Homo sapiens: one gene and its partner. The protein of the gene in region 1 interacts with the protein of each later gene in a pairwise test. Each region holds a gene or a part of one and is shown on either strand. Other genes may lie near its edges.

Evidence for each region. Proteins that work in one complex are often made in the same cells at the same time.
Region 2: the proteins of RNLS (region 1) and ATP2B4 interact in binary tests that used the Homo sapiens proteins (3 or more experiments, as listed by UniProt).

Annotation. Positions count from the first base shown.
Region 1 is NC_000010.11:88,573,293-88,580,318, forward strand, and holds part of RNLS (renalase isoform 1 precursor), read right to left. Parts: intron 1-7,026. UniProt on the Homo sapiens protein: Catalyzes the oxidation of the less abundant 1,2-dihydro-beta-NAD(P) and 1,6-dihydro-beta-NAD(P) to form beta-NAD(P)(+). The enzyme hormone is secreted by the kidney, and circulates in blood and modulates cardiac function and systemic blood pressure.
Region 2 is NC_000001.11:203,706,820-203,713,845, forward strand, and holds part of ATP2B4 (plasma membrane calcium-transporting ATPase 4), read left to right. Parts: intron 1-189; coding exon 190-404; intron 405-1,042; coding exon 1,043-1,285; intron 1,286-2,481; coding exon 2,482-2,723; intron 2,724-4,057; coding exon 4,058-4,289; intron 4,290-5,140; coding exon 5,141-5,320; intron 5,321-6,345; coding exon 6,346-6,433; intron 6,434-7,026. UniProt on the Homo sapiens protein: Calcium/calmodulin-regulated and magnesium-dependent enzyme that catalyzes the hydrolysis of ATP coupled with the transport of calcium out of the cell. By regulating sperm cell calcium homeostasis, may play a role in sperm motility.

The DNA.
Region 1 (7,026 bases):
CAATTAGTGATAAAAATAAAAATAATAACTATAGCTACTTTTCATTAAGCAGCTACTATATGCCAGCTGCTTGGTACACATTATACTAATTTATCTCACAGACAAGGAAATAGATTGAGAAATAGCATGCCATGATTTAAAACTATAACCATCTGACTCTAAAGCTCATCATTTTTGCAGAACAAGTATACACTTCAGTAAACATGTGTGTTAGCAATGAAATAAGAAGAGCAATATTCTCTATTAAAGGAATTAATATTTCCCATTAAAGGACCTGAAAAAGGTTCTCTGTAAGGGAAATGCAAGTTCTCATCAATAGATCAATTGTCTTCATTAAGAAGAATCAGAATTTAGAAACATACTCTAGAGTACCCTCCCATAACATTTTCCTTCTTAGCACTTAACACAAGGATATTTTAATAATTATTTCTTTAATATTGTCTTCCCTTTTAATCTGTAAGGCCCATGAGCTACAAATTATACCTGTTTTATTTCTATGTATAGCATATAGTATACATAGCATAGAATTTATTAGTTAAGTATTTATTTAAAATAATGAATTATGAGGCCAGGCACGGTGGCTCACACCTGTAATCCCAGCACTTTGGGAGGCTGAAGTGGGTGGATCACTTGAGGTCAGGAGTTTGAGACCAGCCTGGCCAACATGGTGAAACCCCATCTCTACTAAAAATACAAAAACTAGCTGGGTATGGTAGTGCATGCCTGCAATCCCAGCTACTAAGCAGGCTAAGACACGAGAATCGCTTGAACTCGGGAGGCAGAGGTTGCAGTGAGCTGAAATCGCACCACTACCCTCCAGCCTAGGCAACATAACAAATAAAAAGAATGAATTATGAACCATAAACTGAAAGAAAGTACAATTGGGTCATTAAGTCTCCTTAGTAAACTAGTACTCACCTTCCAGTTTTCAAAAAATTTTGATTTACAAGCAAATCTACTTTTATTCAGCTTTGTGTATAGAAAAAGAAAGAAATGAAGATGGAATGAGGGAGGAAAAAAGCACACTGAAAGATCCTGTTCATCTTTACCTGGGAAATCTCACGTTCCTAGTCACTAAAAATCCAGCTAAAGTTCATCCCAAAGCTTCCTTTCTGTAGCCACTCCAGCTCAGTGTGATCCTTCCTCTCTATGATATTCTTCAACCATCACTGCCTTTAGTACTAATTTTGACATTGATTCAAAATATCTGCATGCTTTAGTTGTATCTTATCTATGTAATAATACTCAAGGCTCCTTCATGTCGGGTCTTCAGATCTCATACACTTTCATCTCTTTCATTGACCCTTAAATAATGCTACACCCTAGTAAGCACTCCAGTTTTTAAAAAATCAAATGTAAATGTTAGAAGAAACATAGTTCTAGCTAGCCCAAGAGATCAATCTCTGTTCAAGACAGTGTGCATCATTCTGTTCAAAGATTAGAGCAAGGGGCTTGTAAACAGTACTCCATCTTGCCTGAGGGCTTTTCTAAGGCCCCTGCTTGGGGAAGGTGCAAATAATTTGCACTTTCAACACATATCCACCATCTCCTTTATTCCAACAAGGGCAGCTCTGCTTCACTCTGTTTTTATTTATTTAGGATGCCTCACCCTACTTGCCTCACTTAGTCCATGGCCCTGTCCCAGACCTCAGCTAAGTTAACTGATTCTACGTTTTCTCATAATATTCCTTTGAAGAGAACAATATGCTGTTATTGTTGGTGGTATGAGTGTGTGTTTAAGGGGACTTAAGTTCACAGTCCTAGAAAATTCTTCATGCCCCAGATGAACGCCTTGAAAATGTATCCCAATGGCCACAAGGTGTTCTGCAAAGTATATATATATATATATATATATATATATATATATACACACACACACACACACACATATTATATATATATACTATATATATATGTGTGTGTATATATATATATATATATACACATATATATACACCAAGGTGTATATGTATATGTGTGTGTGTGTGTGTATATATATATATGTCAGTGGTTCTCTAAGTATGAACCCCAGACCAGCAGCACCTATGTACTAGAAAATGCACATTCCTGGGCCCCAACCCGACCATACTGAATAAGAAACTCTGGGAATTGAGCCTCGCAATCCATGTTTAACAAGCTCCCTTAGTCTTGTCATGATGCGCGCTAAAGTATGAGAACCACTGGGGTAGGTGGACACGCCCAAATCAAACACCACTGGCAAAACCACCCAAAAAGCAGCATTTATCAAGAGGTAGGAGAAATGGTATAGCCTCTCTTATTAACCAGAAAGGCTTCCTTTCCAACTGCTTGGAGCAAAGTTTTTGGGAAAGTGGCATTTCCTTGTGAAAGTAATTAATAACTTTCACAAAGACTATGTGTTTAAATCTATAAGCTCTGAAAAACCCAATTTTAAAATGGATAAATAAATAGTCTCAAGAGTTATGTCTGAGCTTAGTAAATTTGACCATGTCCCTCTCTTGCATAAAACCCTTCAATGGCTTCCCATCGCACTTAGAGTATAAAATCTTTAACATTGCTTACAAAGCCCTGTATAACCTGGCCCTGCCTTAGTCTTGAGCATCATCTTTTACCATTTTCTCCCTCACTCACTACCGTCCAGTCATAATGATCTTTTATTCCTTGAATGCACTAACCTCCTCCTACTGCTTCAAAACAGTTCCAATTTGATGTGTCCACTGCATTGAACTCTCATCATTCAGCTCTCAGCCTAATTCCCTCTTGCCCACCTTTCAGGTACCCATGAAAATATCAGTTCCTCAGGGATGCTTTCCCTAACACATCTCCCCCATCACTCCTCTAAAACCTACTGGGCTAGGTCCTTTTATTGTAAGTTCTCTCATAATGCTCTCACTCTTTCTTCTTAACATTTATCATGCATCTTTTCTTTGTATGTATAATTAGTTTAATGTCTTTTCTTCCCACTATACTCTACATTAACAGAGGCCAGGATCATGTCTCTTATTGACTTTTGTTTCCCCAGCACATAATATTTAATTAGAATAAAATGATCTTCAGATAGCTATAAAGATATCAGAAGTCTAAGAAGGTTTAAACATTTTACAAAGGCAAATGTGTTTCTGTTATATATTTATTCAATTTTATCCCTGGCCTTCCTCCATTTTAAGGAGAAAATCCAAGTTTATGTTTCTCCTATGATTTCCCACAAATAGGTTTTAGTGAGCAGCAGTCAGAACTGCTCAGGTGGGACCTGAAGTGATGTGAACCATCTCTAACTGACTACACAGCTTGAAGTAAATAGAAGAATGCTTAACCTGGTTTTCATGCCATCCTCTAGCTTCTCTAAAAAGGACATCGTTACGGATGAGTGCCAGGATCACCTGCTGGGAGAAATTTTGAGACAGAACCACCCAGACTCACTTCCCCTCTATCAATTTTAGAAAGAAAATAGGCACAAAAGTAAAAAGAGAGAGAATAATAAAAGTAAATATTACAATACAGAAGCCATCCTAGCTAATGGCATCTGCCACCTAAACCATTTTTTTCTAATAAATTGATCTTGTCAATTTTGACAGGTTACTTTGCAAATGTTGACTTTCTGGATCGCTAGCCAATGTCCTTTTTAGGTAGATGATAAAATAAAAACAAATAAATGCAGCAACAGCCCTCCCTATTGGTAGGACAAGCTAAATAAAAGCTGCTCACTCTGTGTCCTGGAAGCTAAATTCATCTTTTTTGAATAATTTAGTAACATGGGACCTTATTCAAAAGCAAAAGGACCTGGCCCATCATTTTCCATGTCATAGGCAGGAACCATCAGGTGACCAATTTCCCAGGTTGCATAAAGAACTAAGGTGGTATTACTCTTCAATATCCACTTCCCCCTATGTCAGGAATTAACTGATGAAAGAGGGAAACTAGGGGCACAGGGAACTATGAGGTTGTTCTATTGAACCATGTGTCTACTGACACGTAGCACCAGGTGGGATGGGTACAATCTTCATACTATAGGAAAATAATCAATAAGGAAAGAGAAGGCTCTACAAAATAGATGTTAAATTGGAGAGTATGAGCACCTCTCATTGCCCTCCATGAGAGACTTAATAGAAAAAAACAACATGATTAATTGCAAAGGCACTTCAGTTCTGTTACCAACTAGCCAAGCCACCTTAGACAAAGTACCTGAGTCTCATTCTTCGCATTAACAAATAGGGATGATGATTAACTCCCTTGAAAATTTACTGTGAGAATTAGAAACTACATACGTAAAGTACCTCAGGTAGTATTAGATAAATAGTCAGCACTTAATAACTGATAGCTAGAATCACTTTTGCTATTGTCAATTCTCACCCCAGCATAATGACAACTAGTATAAAAAAAGAACAAAAGAAAATCATGTTTCACTCACTCAAGAAGATTGTATTAATGGAGAAGGCAGGCAGTCAGTGAAATTGATGCCAATAAATACAGCTTTCTCTGCAATGAGGTTAATGTGAACACATCGGACAATAAATTAAAATAGAACATAAGGTCAAGAAGAAAGCATCTATTTCCTTTACCTTTTACTATTTGTTCTGGGAAATTGGTCTAGTTAAATATTGGCTTTAAAGGTTTGAACCTATTCTAAAGCATGCCTGATTAGGCATATCCCAGACAAATAATTGCCCTGGGAGTCTGGTCCCAATCTGAATGACCACTGGTTGGTCCATCAGATTGTGGGGTTTTAAACTCAACTAGATTCCAAAATATAGAGTATTTTTGAAAATAGTTGGCAATTTGATTTCTTAAAGTAAGGAATATATGAAGGTCAGCTTCATTCAAGTACAATATTTTTTAAACTAACATTTTTCAAGAGATTACTATGTGACTGGCTTACTACTTGCTTGAATTTGAGTGCATTATATCTTTCATTCCTCACAACACTTTGTAGCAAGAACTTCCATTACAATATTCTGTAGTAAGTACCCTCATTTTTGCATTTCATTACGCTCATTTTTTTCAATGAAAGAACTGAGGTACAGATTTTAAACTTTCCTAATATTACATGAACAGAAAGGGATGGTAGGACATTAACTGGAATCCAGGTCATTCTGATTTCAGGGACTGTCTTAGCTTATAGTGTGGAAAAACCAAAATGTTTTTGTGGACCATTTATAGAATAGAAAGGTTAAAGGGACTTAAAGAATGTTTAAAAGGGATATAATTATAAAATTAAAAATATTATAGATAGGGTCCAACAAATCCTATAGATAATAGATCGGGGTAGAGGAGAATCTCGAAGTATTACAAGAATAACATTAAATAGCATTAAAATAAACAAAGAAAAATTTATATAAACTCAAGTTAAATAGACCATGAACTTGATATAAAATAAATTTTTAACATTTATATCACTCTACCTACTATGTAGGAGGTACTATTAGTTTCTGAGTGAGGTACAAGGAATTAAAAATAATCTCTTCTCTGAAAAGCTTAAAAAGCAAAATTGGAAGTTAAAACGTATGTATTCCCCCAAACACATAACAAAATAAGGAGATAGATGCAATGTATTCAAAGATGTTTCTCTGCCAGGACATCAACTCCATGAAGGCAAGGACATTGGTTCTTGTATCATTAGTACCTAGAACAATGTTTGGCATTATGGTAAGTATTCAATGAATGTTTATTGAACAAAAGGATATGTGTATGTATGTATATATGCATGTGTAGGGGTGAAATTTCAGTAAAAATCAACTGACAAAAGGCATACTAATATGAGAAAAAGCATACAAATTTATTTAATCATAGTTTTGCATGACACTGAAACCTTCAGACTGAAGACCCAAAGATACAGGAGTCCATTTTTATGCTTAGATTCAACAAAGTATGGACAGCTCTGCAGCAATATGATTGGACAAAGGGTTATATCTATGGCTAACAAACTGGTAAAACCCACCAAGGCCTGTCTGTCTAGATTCTTCTTGTCCTCTCTGTGCAGCATTCTTTCTTTATGGTTATAGGTCATGACCCTCTCTGGAACTGTTGTGAGCTACAATCAAACACGGTAGGTCAGATAATTTCTTTATGGCCAGTTTTTACAAAGGAAGGCAGGGGAAAGCTAGAGTGATAGTTTTAGGTTTTATGGCTGGTTTGGGGGGAAAAGGGGTTCTTATTTCTACGACCTGCCTTGGGAAAAGAGATTCTATTTTCTAGGGCTAGCCTCAGGGATGAATGCAAGGCCAGAGATAGGAGGGCAGGAGAAGGTCAGAGAGAGCTACTTCTGAGGGCTCCATTTTGGGATATCATTTTCTAAGCTCCTGCACATGCATGCATGCACGCATATCAGTTAGTAAGTACCTGATGATTTCAATAGGTATACTCATCCAACCTGGGTCAGGGGAAAATCATGGTGGAAATGAGATTTTTTAAAGTGATATGGCCACACTATATGAAGCTGATAGTAACATTCTACAAAACGTCCAATAGTGTCACCATCTGTGATGGTCAATTTTATGTGTCAACTTGACTTGGCCATAGGATGCCTACATATTTGGTCAAACACTATTCTGGGTGTTTCTATGAGCACGTTTTTAGAAGAGATTAACATTTATTATCAGTAGATCAAGTAATGCAGATTGCCCTCCCTAATGTGGGTAGGCCTCATCCAATCAGTTGAAGGCCTACATAGGACAAACGCATTGATCCTCCTTCACATAAAGGAGAATTCTTCCTGCCTGAAAGCCTTTGAACTGGCTCATCAGCTTTTTTCCAGCCTTCAGAGTAGAACTGAAACATTGGCTCTTCCTGAGTCTTGAGCCTGCCAGCCTTTGGACTAGAAGTATACCACCAGCTTTCCTGGGTGTCTACCTTGCTGGATCACCCTGCAGATCTTGGGACTTACCAACCAACATAATCATGTGAGCCAATTCCTTATAATAAATCTCTCTCTTTATCCATACTCACATATACACATGCATGCACACATACATACACACACATACCCTATTGGTTCTGTTTCTCTGGAGTAGTCTAACATACCATCTATATACTGAATCTCGAATGGAGAAA
Region 2 (7,026 bases), on another chromosome or scaffold:
AAACCACTGTCTGTTCCCTATGCTATAATGTACAAGCAACAGAGAATGGGGGGGATTTTAGTAAGTCTTCCTGGCGATGGTGGTTTTAATAATTGGCAACAAAGGCTACAACTGATGCCAATCTATCTCTGGCTAGGGCCCTAGGACTGCCCTCCAGCCTGGGTTCATATGACTTGTTTCTCTGGACAGGTCTGCTCATGTCTGCTCTCACGGTTTTCATCCTGATTCTATACTTTGTGATTGACAACTTTGTGATAAATCGCAGACCATGGCTCCCTGAGTGTACTCCCATCTACATCCAGTACTTTGTCAAGTTCTTCATCATCGGCATCACTGTACTGGTGGTGGCTGTGCCAGAGGGGCTGCCTCTGGCTGTCACCATCTCACTGGCCTACTCTGTGAAGGTGAGACTAGAACAATCCTATCTCTTCCTTTAGGATAGAGATGGGAGAGAAGGGTACCATGTAACCTTTAGTGAAAAGATAAGCCATTCTATCATCTATAAACTTTGGCTGGTGCCTCACAAGAGCAGAAGTCCCTGGTATTATGGAAGGACCATCTCTGTCAGATGCATCAATGTTGAAATGACCCAGCAGAATCTTAAGAGAATGACAAAAATGGTATCTTGGATTTTTTTTTTTTTTTAAGACAGAGTCTCATTCTGTCACCCAGGCTGGAATGCAATGATGCAACCTCCGCCTCCCGGGTTCAAGTGATTCTCGTGCCTCAGCCTCCCAAGTAGCTGGGATTACAGGTGTGCACCACCATGCCCAGTTACTTTTTGTATCTTTTACAGAGACAGGGTTTCACCATGTTGGCCAGGCTGGTCTTGAACTTCTGACCTCAGGTGATCTGCCCGTCTCAGCCTCCCGAAGTACTGAAATTACAGGCATGAATCACTGCACCCAGTCAGTATCTTGGATTTTTGTGTGGGACTGGAAGATGAAATGTGGAGAGATGTTGGCTAGGAAATGGCCTTTGACCTAGATTTAGGAGAGTCCAGTTAGTCCCCCTCTCAAGTCTTTTCTCTTCTCCTTTGTAGAAAATGATGAAAGACAATAACCTAGTACGGCACTTGGATGCTTGTGAGACCATGGGCAACGCCACCGCCATCTGCTCTGATAAGACAGGCACGTTGACCATGAACCGCATGACTGTGGTACAAGCTTATATTGGGGGCATCCATTACCGTCAAATCCCAAGCCCTGATGTCTTCCTGCCCAAAGTCCTGGACCTCATTGTCAATGGCATTTCTATCAACAGTGCTTATACCTCCAAGATTCTGGTAAGCATTTCCTTTGCGTAGACACTTAGAGTGGGTGGTTGGAAGGGAACATCCATTTTCTCTGAAATGAACCCCCTTATTGTTTACACTGCCTAAATTGCCATCCCACATCCCATTTCTCACGCTGGAGTGAACATGTTTGGGTGAGACTACAGAAAAATCCCTGGGAGTCAATGGAGGGTTGGAGGTAAGGGCCTGTAAGAATCTATGGCCAGGAAATACCCTCCCAATTAGCATGTAAAAGCAATGTCTCTAAGGAGGGAAAGTAGAAAGTAACCCAAAGTAGAATTGGGCTTATCAGAAGTAAATTACTCACTTTCTAGAAACAAGCATAGTGTATTAGAATAAGACCCACACAAGGCGAGACACCAGCACTACCACTAGAGCAAACTACAAAATCCCTAAGCCCTGGATGGCACAAGGATCACGGTTACCACTGACCCCTCTCTGCCTACCCTTGAAAAACAACAGGCTAGGCATAGTGGCTCACTTCTGTAATCCCAGCACTTTGGGAAGCCAAAATGGTAAGATCGCTTGAGCCCAGGAGTTCGAGACCAGCCTGAGCAATATTGTGAGACCTCATCTCTACAAAAATAAACAAAATTAGCCAGGCATGGTTGCGCACCTGTAGTCCCAGCTACTCCAGAAGCTGAGGTGGGAGGATCACTTGAGCCTAAGAGGTCAAGTCTGCAGTGAGCTGAGATCACACCACTGCAGTCAAGCCTGGGCAACAGAGCAAGGTGCTATGTCAAAAAGAAAAAGAAAAAAGATGCCAGGTGCTGTGGCTCATGCCTGTAATCCCAACATTTTGGGAGGTTGAGGTGGGCAGATCACCTGAGGTCAGGAGTTCAAGACCAGCCTGGCCAACATGGTGAAACCCGGTCTCTACTAAAAATACAAAAATTAGCTAGGCATGGTGGCAGGTACCTGTAGTCCCTGCTACTCAGGAGGCTGAGGCAGAAGAATCACTTGAACCTGGGAGGTGGAGGTTGCAGTGAGCCAAGGTCGTGCCACTGCACTCCAGGCTGGGCAACAGAGCGAGACTCCATCTCCAAAAAAGAAAAAAAAAAATGTTATTTCCCCTATGAGCTCCAGGTATATAATGTGAAGGCTTTGTAAATGAGTTCTTTCTCCCTAAGTTCTCTGCCTTGTCAAGGCATCTTACTCAATAGTGCTGTGTATATTTCTTCTCCCAGCCTCCAGAGAAGGAGGGAGGCCTGCCTCGGCAGGTGGGCAACAAGACCGAGTGTGCTCTGCTAGGCTTTGTCACAGATCTGAAGCAGGATTATCAGGCTGTGCGTAATGAAGTGCCCGAGGAGAAGCTCTACAAGGTGTACACCTTTAACTCAGTGCGCAAGTCAATGAGCACCGTCATCAGGAATCCCAACGGTGGCTTCCGTATGTACAGCAAGGGCGCCTCTGAGATCATCTTGCGCAAGTGAGCACCCCCGACCACTCTGCTTCCCTTCAAGATCCTCTCCTCAGGAAGGCATGGGTGCACACCCCACACTGAACCCATGTGAATGAGGGAGCCCTCCAGCCAGGTGGTGACATAATAACTAATATCCAAGCGTCTACTCAGGCCACGCATGTTTTTTAAGTGCTTAAGGTGGCTTGTTGTATTTAATCCTCACAACTCAGTAAGGTGGGTACTATGATTATCCCTGTTTTACAGATGAGAAAACAGAGATATAAGGAAGTTAAGTATCTCACTCAAGGTGATACAGCTAATAGTGGCACAGCCAGGATTCAGACCTGGACGATCCTAAGTTTCCATTTCCTAATCTGAAAACAGAGATAGCCATACTCAGCTCCTAAAAGTACTACCCCCTCACTGTAACTAAATGATTCAATGTATGTAAAATGCCTTATACATAACAAGTACTAGAAACGTTTGTTCTGTGTTCTCTTTTCCTTCTCTTTCCTTCCCATTCCCATTTCTGATTACAGGGAATTTACATAACTTTAAAAGTGACTATTCGGCCAGGCGCAGTGGCTCACGCCTGTAATCCCAGCACTTTGGGAGGCCGAGGCAGGCAGAACACGAGGTCAGGAGTTCGAAACCAGCCCGACCAACATGGTGAAACCCTGTCTCTACTAAAAAAAAATACAAAAATTAGCCAGGCATGGTGGTGCGTGCCTGTAATCCCAGCTACTCAGGAGGCTGAGGCAGGAGAATCGCTTGAACCCAGAAGGCAGAGGTTGCAGTGAGCTGAGATCGCACCACTGCACTCCAGCCTGGGTGACAGAGTGAGACTCCATTACAAAAAAAAAAAAGTGACTATTAATAAATTACCCATAGTTCATCAAAAGTTGGCACTATACCTAAGTAGGGCTGAATTAACCAGTGCTCCAACATGGCTTTAGCCACCTTCTTTTAATCAGCACATTCTTGTATAGGAAACCTCCCCCAAACCACCAGCACCACACAGTGAGCACTATTCTAAATACTCGGATTGAAAAAGTCTCTCTGCCTTCAAGAAGTTCAAAAGAGCAGGTGATTCACAAATGACTTGCATTGCATTCACATATGGGTAAGAACAGATGACATGGGAGAATCCCACTCTCTATATATCTAGACCTTAACTCCATCCACAGCCCACCTACCTTGGAAAGAGGGACTCAGCTGGGTGATGAATGAAGGAAATGTTTGGCCACACTTGGAGCAATGTCTTTAGGAATAATACAGAGTTGCCAAAATACCTGTCAATGATTGTAGAAACGTATTGAGTGGGAAGGGAGACACCGCGTTCTTACTGTGCGCCTCCCCAGGTGTAATCGAATCCTGGACCGGAAAGGGGAAGCAGTGCCATTCAAGAATAAAGACAGAGATGATATGGTACGCACTGTCATCGAGCCCATGGCCTGTGATGGACTCCGGACTATCTGCATAGCTTACCGGGACTTCGATGACACAGAGCCCTCTTGGGACAATGAGAATGAGATCCTCACCGAACTGACCTGTATCGCGGTGGTGGGCATTGAGGACCCTGTGCGCCCAGAGGTGAGAGGGTGGGAAGCCACCCAGGAGTCTCAGGAAGTGGGGTACTAGTTCCCTTTCTAGTTGTGACCCCAGGCAGGTAACCTAACTGCCTCTCACTTAGAGGGATAGAAGTTTCTGTGCTTCCTGCTTCACAGGACTGCTGTGGAGTGCCAGTATGATCGAATGTGGCATTCCTAGGACTAATGCTGTCTGAGTGTTGAGAAGCAAAGGGCTTATTGGGCTCATTATTTGGTACTTAAGTGTTGTCAGGAGGTCAATTTAGCCAGGACACCAACTTTGTCTTTAGCTCCCTCCTTTCAATCAACACATTCTTTTTGAGTACCTGCTGTGTGCTGATAACTATTCTAGACACTAGGGGATTGAAAAGTCTCTGCTTCTAAGAAGTTTAGACAGATGGACTATTAATTCTCAAGGCCCAGAGGCATGAGAGGGTGTCATGCATGTGGGAAATTACAAAGAGCTGATATGGTTGGAACATGGGCCAGGTGGGTGGAGAGTGGCAAAAGCTTCTGCTAGAAAAGAAAGCACTGGCCAAATCGCAAAATGCCATTCATGCCCTGCCGAGAAGTCTCAATTGTAAGTGAAAGAGCAAGTTTTTACACCTCACTCCCAAAGCAAATTTCCCCTTCAACTCATGGTACAATAGGGCAAATTCAAATGTGACTGCCGTGGGTAGGACAGAAGTGAGGTGGCACCCAACAGTATCAAAATGACCAGACCTAGCCCATGCTGCATGGCACCACTTCTAGGGTGCCTTTCTCCTGTCTGCCACAAAGGGACAGACAAACAGGGACAGCTTACCAGGGTCATCACCCTCATCTGCGCCTTTCCCCTTTCTTCACTCTCCATAGGTGCCAGATGCTATTGCCAAATGCAAACAAGCTGGCATTACTGTCAGAATGGTGACAGGTGACAACATCAACACAGCCCGGGCCATTGCCACCAAATGTGGCATTCTGACACCTGGGGATGACTTCCTGTGCTTAGAAGGCAAAGAATTCAACCGGCTCATCCGCAACGAGAAAGGCGAGGTGGGTCCTGGCTAGGGGGAACCAGGACCTCACCTGACAAGGAAAAGGCGGGTTCTAGCATAAGGCATCTGGGTCATGTGCGGGAAGGTGGGTGGTTTCTAAAGTGAAAGCTATTCGTAGTGAAACATCTCCTTGTACCAAACTGCTGATATGGTAACATTGGGAGTTGCCGGCTGGGCGCGGTAGCTTACTCCTGTAATTCCAGCACTTTGGGAGGCCACGGCGGGTGGATCACAAGGTCAAGAGATAGAGACCATCCTGGCCAACATGGTGAAACCCCGTCTCTACCAAAAATACAAAAATTAGCTGGGCATGGTGGCGTGCACCTGTAGTCCCAGCTACTGGGGAGGCTGAGGCAGGAGAATCACTTGAACCTGGGAGGCGGAGGGTGCAGTGAGCCAAGATCATGCCACTGCACTCCAGCCTGGGCAACAGAGCAAGACTCCGTCTCAAAAAAGAAAAAAAAAAGAGGGGGGGAGTTGCTTGTGAATGAAGCTTGCTAGCTTCATTCACAAGCTATCTTTTGAGACAGTGTCACTAACTTTTCTTGTCTTTCTGCTTTTTCAGTTTTTTATACTGACTTCCCCCTAGCCCACCCCTCCTGTGTCCCTGCCCTTTGGCTAACAGTGGCTAAAGGAGAATGTGGTCTGGCGGTGGCACAGATCCAAGCTTTCCTGAGCTACATAGAAATCAAACCTAAGACCTCAGAAGCACCACTTTACCCACCCGAGCCAACAGCCAACCCTGGCCCACCTCCCATTAAAGGTCTGGGAAATGGGGGATTGGCTGCCAGGTAGGGACTTGGGAGGAAAAAGAAAAAAAGCAGGGCCTGAATGGTCATCATCCATGAATCTACCCTTGGAGACTGGTTGGCTGTTTCATCTCTGCTTAATCCAGAATAACACTTTCATGTGGGACTGTGGTGTACCCAATCTCCCAGTGACTCCAAGTGTATGGAGAAGTTAAGATTTTCCTGGATAGCTTTTCTGCATTTGACTGATCCAGGTGTGGTCTGGTGTTGGCAGGTAGAGCAAGAAAAGCTGGACAAGATCTGGCCTAAGCTTCGGGTCCTGGCGCGATCTTCTCCCACTGACAAGCACACCCTGGTGAAAGGTGAGGTTGGCTTCCAAATAGGTGCCTGCAACAGCTGAAGGCAGGCCAGGGCGAGGACAGATAAGAACCACCAGCCAAAGCCACTCTCCTGTCCAAATAGGGAGGTCCTAGGAGAGCTCCCAGGCTAGTGGGGAGAACATACAGTTAGCAAACATCTGAGCCCTTGGTGAGTATGACACACAATAAAGTTGTTGGGTTTTTATTTTTTTTATTTTTTGTTTTTATTTTTGGAGACCGAGTCTTGCTCTGTCACCCAGGCAGGAGTGGAGTGGTGCAATCTCAGCTCACTGCAACCTCCGCCTCGTGAGTTCAAGTGATTCTCCTGCCTCAGCCTCCCGAGTAGCTGGGACTACAGGCGCATGCCACCATGCCTGATTAATTTTTGTATTCTTAGTAGAGACAAGGTTTCACCATGTTGACCAGGCTGGTCTCGAACTCCTGACCCCAGGTGATCCGCCCACCTCGGCCTCCCAAAGTGTTGGGATTAGAGCCGTGAGCCACCGCACCTGGCAATTGCATGGGTTCTTAAAAACATGATCATGTCTTATTTACCAATAGTACTGTGAACTAGGCAGGGCAGGTATTCCCATTTT